3 linked regions of the Homo sapiens genome follow. The protein of the gene in region 3 interacts with the protein of the main gene of each other region in a pairwise test. Each region holds a gene or a part of one and is shown on either strand. Other genes may lie near its edges. The genes, in order: TNNI1, CFAP68 and PRKAB2.

Region 1 (3,651 bases), about 54 Mb from region 3:
TGCTAGGGTTCCAGCCAGAGATACACCTTAAATTGTCCACCCTTGAAGCCAGACCTATCAGCAGTCACCAACCTTTTTGTCACCAGGGACCGGTTTTGTGGAAGACACTTTTTCCACGGAGAGGTGGTGGGGTGGTTTCAGGATGAAACTGTTCCACCTCAGACCATCAGGCATGAGTTTGATTCTCATAAGGAGCGTGCAACCTAGATCCCTCACATGCACAGTTCACAATAGGGTTCACACTCCTGTGAGAATCTAATGCCGCCGCTGATCTGACAGGAGGCAGAGCTCAGGCGGGAATGCTCATTTGCCCACTGCTCACCTGCTGCAGTGTGGCCCAGTTCCTAACAGGCCACGGACAGGTACTGGTCCACAGCCCAAGAGTTGGAGATCCCTGCTCTAGGACAGTCAGACCCACCCATCCCTTTGCAAATAACCACTGCACATTTGCTGATAAACGGATGGTTAAGTGGACAGATAAAGCCTATTAGCCGTTGCTAACACTATAGCCTTGAATAAAAGGGGCGGCTCCACCAGACTGAGACTTGTCTGATTTGGAAGCCCTATTTGGAGTGCAGGGCTGCTTCCTCTTGTTCCTGCAGCCTCATCCCTGCTTCTAACTTATTCCTCCCCAGTGAGCCTTCAAAGCAGCTCACAGCCTTGGTCCAGCAGGGTGATAAACTTACAGGTCCTAGACCCCTGGAGGAATTCCCAGGGTGTGATCTCTAGGGGGAGTTCTTAGGAGCTTGGTGACCCCACATATAATTCCTGGTGGGCAGAAGTGGGAAGGAGAGAAGTGGCTTGTGCTCCCTCCCTGCCCCCTCCTCACTGCCTGGACAAATGCCCCAAAGGAGCCCTGTCCTTCTCTGCTCTGCCCCTCCCCACTGGAGCAGGGTCTGGGTGGAGCTAATCCTCCCACACCCCATGCTAAGGGAGCACAGAGCACCGGAGTGGAAGCCAGAGACCAGCACTGGTCCCAGGACCACCACTGTGCAACCTAGGACAAGTCTTTGGCCTCTCTGATCCTGAGTGTTCTCCTCTGCAAGGTGCAGATAATAGCCCCTACTTCATCCACAGGCCTATAAGGAGGATCAAAGGCTATAACGAACATGAAAGCACTTCACAAAGGTAAGACGTTATTAACAGGCATATGATTATTTGTGTGGGTGGATAAAGAGAGCAGCTTCTGTTAGGCTGATGAGCCCACATGGCAGGTAGGGAGGAAGTTTGTACTTTTCATGTGTGATTATCCACTCTACCCATCTCCAGCCCTATGGGGCTAGGGCAGACAAACCAAAGTTTCCTGCTTAAGTGGCCCCTTCCTAGGCCCTGTGGAAGGAGGGGACCTCCCATGGCTGCTGCATCCGTGCCCATGCCCCTGCCCAACCCATTATGGCCATGCCCCTTCCCTTCCTTAGACTCACCTCCCTGGTGTTGTGGAGGCATTTGGCCTCAATGTCGTATCGCTCCTCATCCACCACCTCCACCTTGGCGTGCAGCTCCCGGCACAGGTCCTGGGGGCCGCAGATGGATCATGCAGGTGTGAAGAAGAGGGGAACAGAGACATCAGTTTCCAGCCCTTGACCCTCTCCCCAGCCCCTTTGCAAGACCTGGGATCCAGAGAGGAGCTGACAGTCTCCTCCACTCTGAGGCTCATGACGGGCAATAGCTCAAAGGGTATGCCCTCTGTTCTCCTGTCTGAATGTCATGATTTCTTAAAAAATAGTATTCCTTCGCTTGAACCCAGGAGGCGGAGGTTGCAGTGAGCTGAGATCACACCACTGCACTCCAGCCTGGTGACAGAGCGAGACTCCGTCTCAAAAAAACAAACAAACAAACAAAAAACTAGTATCCTTGGCTGGGCACGGTGGCTCATCCCTGTAATCCCAGCACTTTGGGAGGCCAAGGTGGGGGATCACCTGAGGTCAGGAGTTCAAGACCAGCCTGACCAATGTGGTGAAACCCTGTCTCTACTAAAAATACAAAAATTAGCCAGGCATGGTGGTGTGCACCTGTAGTCCTAGCTACTTAGTAGATTGAGACAGGAGAATCACTTGAATCTGGGACACAGAGGTTGCAGTGAGCCAAGATCACGCCACTGCACTCCAGCCTGGGCAACAGAATGAGACTCTGCCTCAAAAAAAAAAAAGTATTCTTTCATCATGGCTCATTGCAGCCTCAACCTCCTGGGCTCAAGTGACCCTCCCATCTCATTTTTTTAAACTTTGTATAAAGAAAAGGTCTCACACTATGTTGCCCAGGCTGGTCTCGAACTCCTGGGTTCAAGTAATCCTCCTGCCTCCGCCTTTCAAAATGCTGGGATTACAGGCATGAGCCACTGTGCCCAGCAAAATAAAATAGTTTTCTTATGATAAAAGTAATGCGTTAATTTTAGACATTTTGAAAACTATGTATTAAACAAAAATAATAAAAATTAAAATACCTAGTGATGCCACCACCCAGGGATACTTAGTAACATTTTGATATACTTCCTTCCAGTCTCTTTTCTCTATAATCACTGGCATTTAACCAATTTACCAGTGTTCTGAAAACATTGAAGACCAAATTCTAGGAAAGGGTAGACAAGTCCTTGGAAAAGTGGGGCTTCTCCCAACCCCGGCCGCCTCCCCACTCCATGCCACCACACTGGCTGATTGTGAAGCTGGGCCGCCCAGCCCAGGCAAGTCACGCCTCCCCTCTGATGCTCAGTTCAGTGCCCGTAAAATGGAATCTAATGTTCCCACCTCACAGGTGGTTGTGAAGATTAAATGAGACCATGTAAGGGAGGAGTGCCCTGTAAATTATGGAGCCTTGAGCTGGTGTTAGTTCAGGCTCCTGCCGCCTGGTCCTTGGAGCCACCCACACAGCACCTCCAGCCCCACCCTGCCCCGCCCCACCTGCCAGGCTAACCTGCAGGGCACTGAGGGACAGGCCACGGGTCTGCAGCGTGGGGATGCGCTCTGCCAGGTAGCGCACCTTCTCAGCCTCGCGCTCCTCGTGCTCCTGCTCCCAGCATTCCTTGGCCTTGGCCAGCATCAGGCTCTGGACAGGACACACCTGCTGAGCTGGGGGCCTCACATCTCCCACCCGGCATCAGGGAATGAGGGGAGGGCAGCCACAGCCTGGGCCAACTCTGAGACCACTGTCCAGTGTAGAAGTGTATGCAGCAGCCATGGACAGGCCACCATGAGGGTACACCCAGTGGCTGCACACAATGTTCCTCAAGCCCTGGAACTTGTTTTCCCCGGACAGTCTTCCTCTTATCCACTTACTGTCTGTTTTGACCCACAAAACTCCAAAGAGAGAAACACATATGAAAATAAAGGAAGTCCCTCTGCCTGCATGAGTAGCTTCCCACTCTGAAGCTGGTCACCACCTACTCTAGGGACCACAGGCGGATGCCAGAATCCATACTCGAGGATCCCACCTACTGATCACCTGAGCCTGGCACTGGCTCCAGCAATGCTGGACTCCTGCCCCTCATCATCCTCACTCTGGCCTCCTTCCTTTCTCCTTGCCATAATCCTCCACATCCCTTCAGAGTCTGCTCTGCTGCCCCTCTGCCTCCCACTGGGCATCCCCCCACAGCCAGCCCCCAGCCTCACCTTCAGCAAGAGTTTGCGGGAGGCAGTGATCTTGGGTTTTCTCTGT
Region 2 (3,751 bases), on a different chromosome or scaffold from region 3:
TCTAAATTTTATATGGAAATGCAAAAGTTCAAACATAGCTAATATTCTTGAAGAAAACAAGACGAAAGCATTTGATCTATTAGGTATTAAGATATAAAATAATAATAATGTAATAAAATTATCATAATTAAGATGGTGCAATTAAGGCATCATAACTAAGATAATACAAGGAATGACAATTAAACTAATAGAACATAGTAGCCCAGAAACAGACCTACATGTACATAGTTTATTTACAATAAAAATGGCATTGAATAGGAGTGAAAAAATTATGGTCTTTTCAATAACTAATGGTGGGACAACTTGATAGCCATTTAGAAAAAAAAAAGAAACTTCCTCACTACTGAGTAACAACATAAATTCTGGATCTATATCTCGAAACTAAAGTAACAAAGGTTTGAGAGGTAATATATGGGAGATAAAAAATATCTCCTTGCTTACGAGGACAACATATGGGCAGTATCTCTCAGTAATGCCCATATATTATAGTGTCTTCTTACACAGTAGATAAAAAAATAGGAAATACTAATCAGTTTAACCATATTAAAATTAAGACTGTTGATTTCCTAAGTTTACCAAACCTAAGCTATTCACAACCCTTTCTCAGTCTCTACTAGTTCCCTATTTTGACTCATTTTAAACCAGTTGGACCCTTATCTCAAATCCTTATAAATACCTTACTCTAACATCCTCCCTTTGAATCATTACCAAGACTCTGTGTCAAGTTGATGGTCTCCTTTGCTACACTACAATAGGTTTAATGAGCTTTGTTTAGTCAACAGGTTTCCTTAGTGACCTTTGTTGGGGGGGAGTAGACAATTGACAGTCCTTATCTTTTTGAGAAATATACTGAAATCTTTAAAAAAATTTTTTTTGGTAGAGATGGGGTCTTGCTATGTTGCCCAGGCTGGTTTTGAACTCCCAGCCTCAAGCTATCCTCCTGCCTCAGCCTCCCAAAGTGCTGGGATTAGGTGTGAGCCACTGTGCCCAGCCAGTATACCAAGATTTTTTTTTTCTTTTTCTTTTCTTTTTTTTTTTTGAGACGGAGTTTCGCTCTTGTCGCCCAGGCTGGAGAGCAATGGCACCGTCTCAGCTCACTGCAACCTCTGCTTCCTGGGTTCAAGCAATTCTCCTGCCTCAGCCTCCCAAGTAGCTGGGATTACAGGCGCCCGCCACCAAGACCAGCTAATTTTTGTATTTTTAGAAGAGATGGAGTTTCACCACATTGGCCAGGCTGGTCTTGGACTCCTGACCTCAGGTGATCCACCCACCTCAGCCTCCCAAAGTGCTGGGATTACAGGCATGAGCCACCGCACCCAGCCCACCAAGATTTTTATAGATTAAATTCTATTTCTAAGATCTGCTCCAAAATTAATTCAATAAGACAAAGTAGAAGTAGGTAAGATTAGTCATAAATAGTTGATGCTGGGTAATGATACATGGGAGTTCATTAGACTAGCCTGTCTACTTTTGTTTTACGTAAAATTCTCCATAATAATTTTAAAAAGTTACGTTTGTTTTTGTAGTCCTCAAGAGGGGATGTTCACTAAGGTCACAGCAAAGTTGCACTATACGACTCTGGCTTATACCCAGAAAGCATCTAGCCAAACCTAGCCTAAGTTATGCTAGATTCTGAGGTCTTGCTACGACAGAAGGAAGGGAAGACCACAGTGGTTGTAGACTTCAGAGAAATAATTCTTTTTTTTTTTTTTTTTTTGAGACAGAGTCTCGCTCTGTCACCCAGGCTAAAGTGCAGTGGCATGATCTCAGCTCACCACAACCTCCACTTCTCAGGTTCAAGCGATTCCCCTGCCTCAGCCTCCTGAGTAGCTGGGATTACAGGCGTGAGCCACCATGCTCAGCTAATTTTTGTGTTTTTAGTAGAGACAGTGTTTCACCATGTTGGTCAGGCTGGTCTCGAACTCCTGACCTCACGTGATCCACCTGCCTCGGCCTCCCAAAGTGCTGGGATTACAGGCATGAGCCACCGTGCCTGGCCTAAAATAATTCTTTTTAAGGCCCTTCTACAACACCCCAAATGTAGAACTGAGTTGCTGTATTAAATTTGACATTTAAATCTTGGTTAAAACAACAACAAAAAAAGGGATAAAGAATATTTACTGTGTTTTTTGCTTTATTTATTCAGAGAGTGAAACTGTGTTACAGTGAGCTAAATTTTTAGCTGTACTTAGAATGTGCTCCCTCCTACATTTCACTCTGGAAAAGTGAAGTATCTTATCATTTCTTAGAAACCTGGATGTGAAACTAGTCAATATTAAGATCTTATACACATCCTGAGTGATGCCCAATTTAAGGCTTTGAATAGCTATTCATGTAAGTTGACTTTTCTGTGCATTTGTATCGGGGAGGATCCAGTTCAGGTTGATGTCCTGGGAACCAGTGAGGCTCTCGCTTAAATCCTGAGGGAAGAAAAAAAAAGGAAGGAAAGACAAATGAAAACAGTCAACACTAAGGAGTTTTAGTAACTGATCTTGCTCTTATTTCTAGGGAATAGACAGTAAGTCCTGTTAAAATTGAAGAAAAAATCCTGTTTACTCATTCATGTAGTTATTCACCTTTTTTTTCTTTTTTTTTTTTGAGATAGAGTCTCACTCTGTCACCCAGGCAGGAGTGCAGTGGCTTGATTTCTGCTCACTGAAACCTCCACCTCTCGGGTTCAGGTGATTCTCCTGCCTCAGCCTCCTGAGTAGCTGGGACTACAGGCATGCGCCACCAAGCCCAGCTAATTTTTGTATTTTTTTTAGTAGAGATGGGGTTTCACCACGCTGGCCAGGCTGGTCTCAAACTCCTGACCTCAAGTGATCTGCCTGCCTCAGCCTCACAAAGTGCTGGGGTTACAGGTGTGAGCCACTGCGCCCAGCCTCACTTATTCACCTATTCAGTTTACTTTTATTTGAGTTCCTTCTATGTGCCGGTCACTGAGTTAGGTTCTGAAAATGTAAGAATTTGAAAAAACAGTCCACGTACTATGTGTTGAAAGTGGCATTTTGTTGTTGTAGCTTGTATCATATGTTGTTTCAAAGTAGTGTCCAAACTGGAAAGAAAAATTAACAGATTAAGAATCTGGAAGTCTACAGCTAACATCAGGAAATAAAGATCAATATGACATGAATTCTCACGGACTGTCATATTTTAGATGGACTGAGTTCTATGGTGTTAGTCTATATCCTTCTAACTTTCACATGTTTTGTACGTTTGTTTGTTTAGGAGCGATTTAAGTGCAAGACTCAGATAAATGACAAGTCTAGATAGGCAAGGACCAGGGGAAAAGCTAGTCTAAGTCAGAAGACATTATAAATTTCTGTAGACTAAGAGATAAAGTCCAAACAGAAGTAAGAGAAAAAGAGGACTGCCCTTCCTTTTGAAACCTTACAGATAATAAAATATTCAACTTGACAGTAAAGTAGCATAGGTGGTTCAGCTGCGGACTGTTCCTCTGCCCCAACCACTTCACTGAAAACTGAGAGATCACTGCACCAGAAGTTATTACATCCCTGCATTTCAAATGGCCACTACATTTCTTTTGCCAACAGAAGGAAACAAACAAACAAAAAAGACAAAGTTAGATTACCTGGGAAGGCAAGGGTTTGGGCTGCACGATATTCCTCAGGTCATATCTTTCCTGGTTCCAGTTGCCCATCAGGGTACGGTTTGAATAGGTATTCTCATTAGTGGTGCATCGCCATCCATACTGGAAAAACTTGGACATATTATTCCAATCTGTCCACAC
Region 3 (3,651 bases):
AATAAGTTTTGTGTTAGAGAGGGGTCAGGTATGGGATCTGAAGGAGGCTATTAAAGGAAGAATGTGAAATGAGAGGAATAAGGGTTCTTGTGGGGCATCTGGTATCATATAAACAACACAGATTGTGCCACATACTCTGGGAATATAGAGAACCCATGCAAGAAAAACTGCCCTTGCAATGAGGCAGCTGTTAAGTAGGGCAGCGGTCTAGCACAAGCCCATTCCTTGGAGAGCCAAGGTAGCAGTGATAGAATCTCCACCCAACAAGGATCCTAAGAGTTTGCTGTTCTTTCATTTTAGGAAAAATCTTCCTATATAGTTATTCCTGCAGCGCCCCCAAACAGGTCTTGGTGAAAACCCACAGGCAGAAACAATACTTCTAGCTGGGGCTAGGAGGCTTCCATTTACCTTCTTCTCATATGTATATTTTTTTTTCTTAAAATAAATTCCGTGAACTCATAAAGCTCTCATCTGCAATCAAATGCAAAAGCAGAGCATCCTACTCAGAGGCTCTGAAACACACATATCAGCCTCAAAGCAAATCAGCCTTCCAGTCTCAGGTAAGACTGGTTCAGTCCAGAAATGCAAGGGAGATGCTTCTCCTGAATCCTTAGAGGCAAGAAGGGATCCCTTCAAATGGGCTTGTATAGCAGAGTAGTAACATACTTCTTCTTGTAGCGATGGGTTGCGCTAAGGACCATCACACTGTCCTGCAAGGAAAAGAAACATACGCAGCTAATTCATTACTTCAGACAGTAGGTAGCTCTTCCCAGTCATCAGTCCTTCACAGTCACTCACTTTTAACAGAGATAGTTTGATATAAGAGCAGGAGGTCAAATAAGTTTTAGTTCCAATTCTGACTCCTATCATCATTCTACTTGTGGCCTTGGGTAATCTACTTAGTGTGTCCAAGTCTTTTTATCTCATCATTACAAAAGATAACACCTACCATTAAGGTTGCTCTGATGATTACATGAGAATATCTGACACAGTTTCTGACACATAAAAGGGCTGAAGAAATAATAGTCTCCTACCTTGCTCCCTTCCCTACTTTAAATTCTAATGTTGGGCCTAAAACTAGCAAGAAAAACAAAAAAGAACAAAATATTCTGGCATCCATTTCTAGAAGAAAGTCTTAAAGACAATGAGGAAAAAAAGAAACAATCCTTCTGAAAAACTATTTCCAAGTCCCAAAGCAGGTCTAATTTTCATTTAAAACCAGGGATGACTTCCAAAAGATCTCTCTGATTTAGAGGGAACCTAGGAATCCCTCTCTATCCTTGAACAAAGTAGATGTCAAAATCCTCTTCAGAAAGACACCCAATCCAATGGATCAATTCCAAACTGCCTAAACAATATGAGAGAATCAGGAATGGGTCAGAACCAAGCTAAGCCACAATAATCAAACACCTTCACCTGAGTCAGAACCAGTAAGAAGACAGCAAGAGGTACCATTTCCCAGGCTGTGTTGTAGACTACAGATGTACCACAGGAGGAGATGGCAAGCCTAGGCAAATTAAATGACATCCAAGGAGCAGTTACAGGAGGCAAAATCCATCAGATCCCAAAGAACCCAAGCAAATCCGATTAAGAACAAGTGTATCCTTCTACCTTCCCCCGTACTGTATTATCCACCATGAATGCTTCTCGGGTTAACACTCCAGAGTCATGCTGACACAAAGCCTAAATACGACAGAAGCAAGGCAGGTAAACAATTCACTTTTACACTTCCACAGGTTTTGTGGAAATGAGGAATACCTGAGAAAAACCTACTTGGAAAGACCTGGCATAATGATAATATAGGAAAGAATATGAAGTCAGCATAGGAGGACTGGACCTCAGCAGTCCTGTCTCTGGTACTTACTGGCAATTTGACCTTCTCTGAGCCTTAGTTTCTTTATCTATAAAACAGGAGTTAAAAATACTTACAACGTTATTATAAAAATTAAATTCAATAATATATTTTTAAGTGTTATATTGTACCACATAGTTTGTTAGCTATATCAGTGATTTCCCGAATCCAGCTATATATCCAAGTAAAAGCAGCTTAAAAAAATTATAGGGCCCATCCTAGATGCACTTATTCAGAATCTCTAGGAATGGAGCTGCTGAATCTGTATTTTTACAATCTTCTCCAGGAGACTCTAATGATAATCAGCCTGGTTTGATAACTGCAGAGCTATATAACTTTATTCCAATAGCCAAACCACAAAGACATAACAAGACAGAACAGAATGGCTATTTCCAACCCAGACTCTAAAGCAGCAGAAAAACCAAGGAGGACTCTAGAGTTGACGGGACAGGGCAAATCTGGTCACATCTCTCCTTTAACTAGTGTATAGGAGAGATGCAAGCACCTGAGTATATATGAATGAGGCACCTGAAAGTAGCTCAATTCCACCTTCAAAAAATGAAAGCCTTAATATCACATTCAAGCATTCTTTGAACTGGAAGCTAAACCTGCTTTTTCTGCAGAAGAAATCCTATGCTATGAACACAAACTTAAGTAAACAGTTAGTGTAAAGATTCTAGTCACCCAAAAAATAACTGGGCAGCAAAAAAGTCCTATCAGAGGGCAATTCAGCCAGCCAGAACACAGAGACTGAGATTTTAAAACAAACAACCTAGTAGTTAAAAAAAAGAGAGTTCTTCTATAATTTGATCATTACTGCCAGCTTCAGCTTCAATGAAATAGCAGAGAAAGTAACCACTGAGAACGTATGTTACCCTTGACCTCTCATTCCAGGGAGCTCTGTGAAGAGCCAGGGCCACCACTTACCTTAATGGACAATGCATAGAGATGGTTCAGCATAACATGGTTGGGCTCAGGGAGTAAGGCTGGGTCACACTAAGAGAAAGAGAAAAAAATTACTAAAAAAATTACTAAATGAAATTAATGCACAGACAAACCAAACAGCTTACTCTTCCTCAGAGCTCTTTGAGAAATTTAAACTAGAATGCGCTATCTCTTTTCAATAATGCACCCACTCTAGTATGTATCAATAATACAATCCTATTACAGAAAATTAGAAAAATTATCAGTCCAGGGCAGAAATCTCATGCCTCAGCATCTACTAATCTTCCTTAAGAGAGCTAAAACAAAAATCTTGCCCACAACACACAAGGAAGAGTTGTGTTACAAGGCAAAAACAATCATAGTAGGAATCAAGTAGATTGAATAGAGACATGAATTATATACAAAAAAGCTTTCATAGTTCTTTTGTACACCCCCAAATGATAACTACTCCTTTATGTTGTGCTCAAAAGAAGTCCATAGCTCTGATCCTGATTTTATTAGGATGAGGAGACAACTATGAATTTTTATATCAGTACCTGAAAAAGCTGTGACTCACCACTGGAAAAAGGAAATCTGTAATGTTATTGGTATGTGTATGACTTATAATCTCAACACACCTCTGTAGTAATCCTAACCTCTAGGATTACTGAACTTTGGTCCAAATGGTCCTAGACACCCCCAGATGCCCCAGTAATACTCAGGATACTCACAGAAATATTAGTGTCTTTGTTAAGAATAACTTGAAGTAGATGAGGAGGAAGGATGGGTGGGGATTTGAATCTTTCCTCAGATCGAAACGCATACATTTCTTGACCATAAGGCCCTGGGGGTGAGCTGGAAAGGTCTGAAAGATA

Evidence for each region.
Region 1: the proteins of PRKAB2 (region 3) and TNNI1 interact in binary tests that used the Homo sapiens proteins (3 or more experiments, as listed by UniProt).
Region 2: the proteins of PRKAB2 (region 3) and CFAP68 interact in binary tests that used the Homo sapiens proteins (3 or more experiments, as listed by UniProt).

The regions. Positions count from the first base shown.
Region 1 is NC_000001.11:201,411,608-201,415,258, forward strand, and holds part of TNNI1 (troponin I, slow skeletal muscle), read right to left. Parts: intron 3,648-3,651; coding exon 3,606-3,647; intron 3,043-3,605; coding exon 2,911-3,042; intron 1,515-2,910; coding exon 1,425-1,514; intron 1-1,424. UniProt on the Homo sapiens protein: Troponin I is the inhibitory subunit of troponin, the thin filament regulatory complex which confers calcium-sensitivity to striated muscle actomyosin ATPase activity.
Region 2 is NC_000011.10:111,882,440-111,886,190, reverse strand, and holds the end of CFAP68 (cilia- and flagella-associated protein 68), read right to left. Parts: coding exon 3,593-3,751; intron 3,056-3,592; coding exon 2,989-3,055; intron 2,421-2,988; coding exon 2,311-2,420; 3' UTR 216-2,310; downstream 1-215. UniProt on the Homo sapiens protein: Microtubule inner protein (MIP) part of the dynein-decorated doublet microtubules (DMTs) in cilia axoneme, which is required for motile cilia beating.
Region 3 is NC_000001.11:147,158,933-147,162,583, forward strand, and holds part of PRKAB2 (5'-AMP-activated protein kinase subunit beta-2), read right to left. Parts: intron 3,642-3,651; coding exon 3,508-3,641; intron 2,849-3,507; coding exon 2,780-2,848; intron 1,902-2,779; coding exon of another isoform or gene 1,865-1,901; intron 711-1,864; coding exon 633-710; 3' UTR 1-632. UniProt on the Homo sapiens protein: Non-catalytic subunit of AMP-activated protein kinase (AMPK), an energy sensor protein kinase that plays a key role in regulating cellular energy metabolism.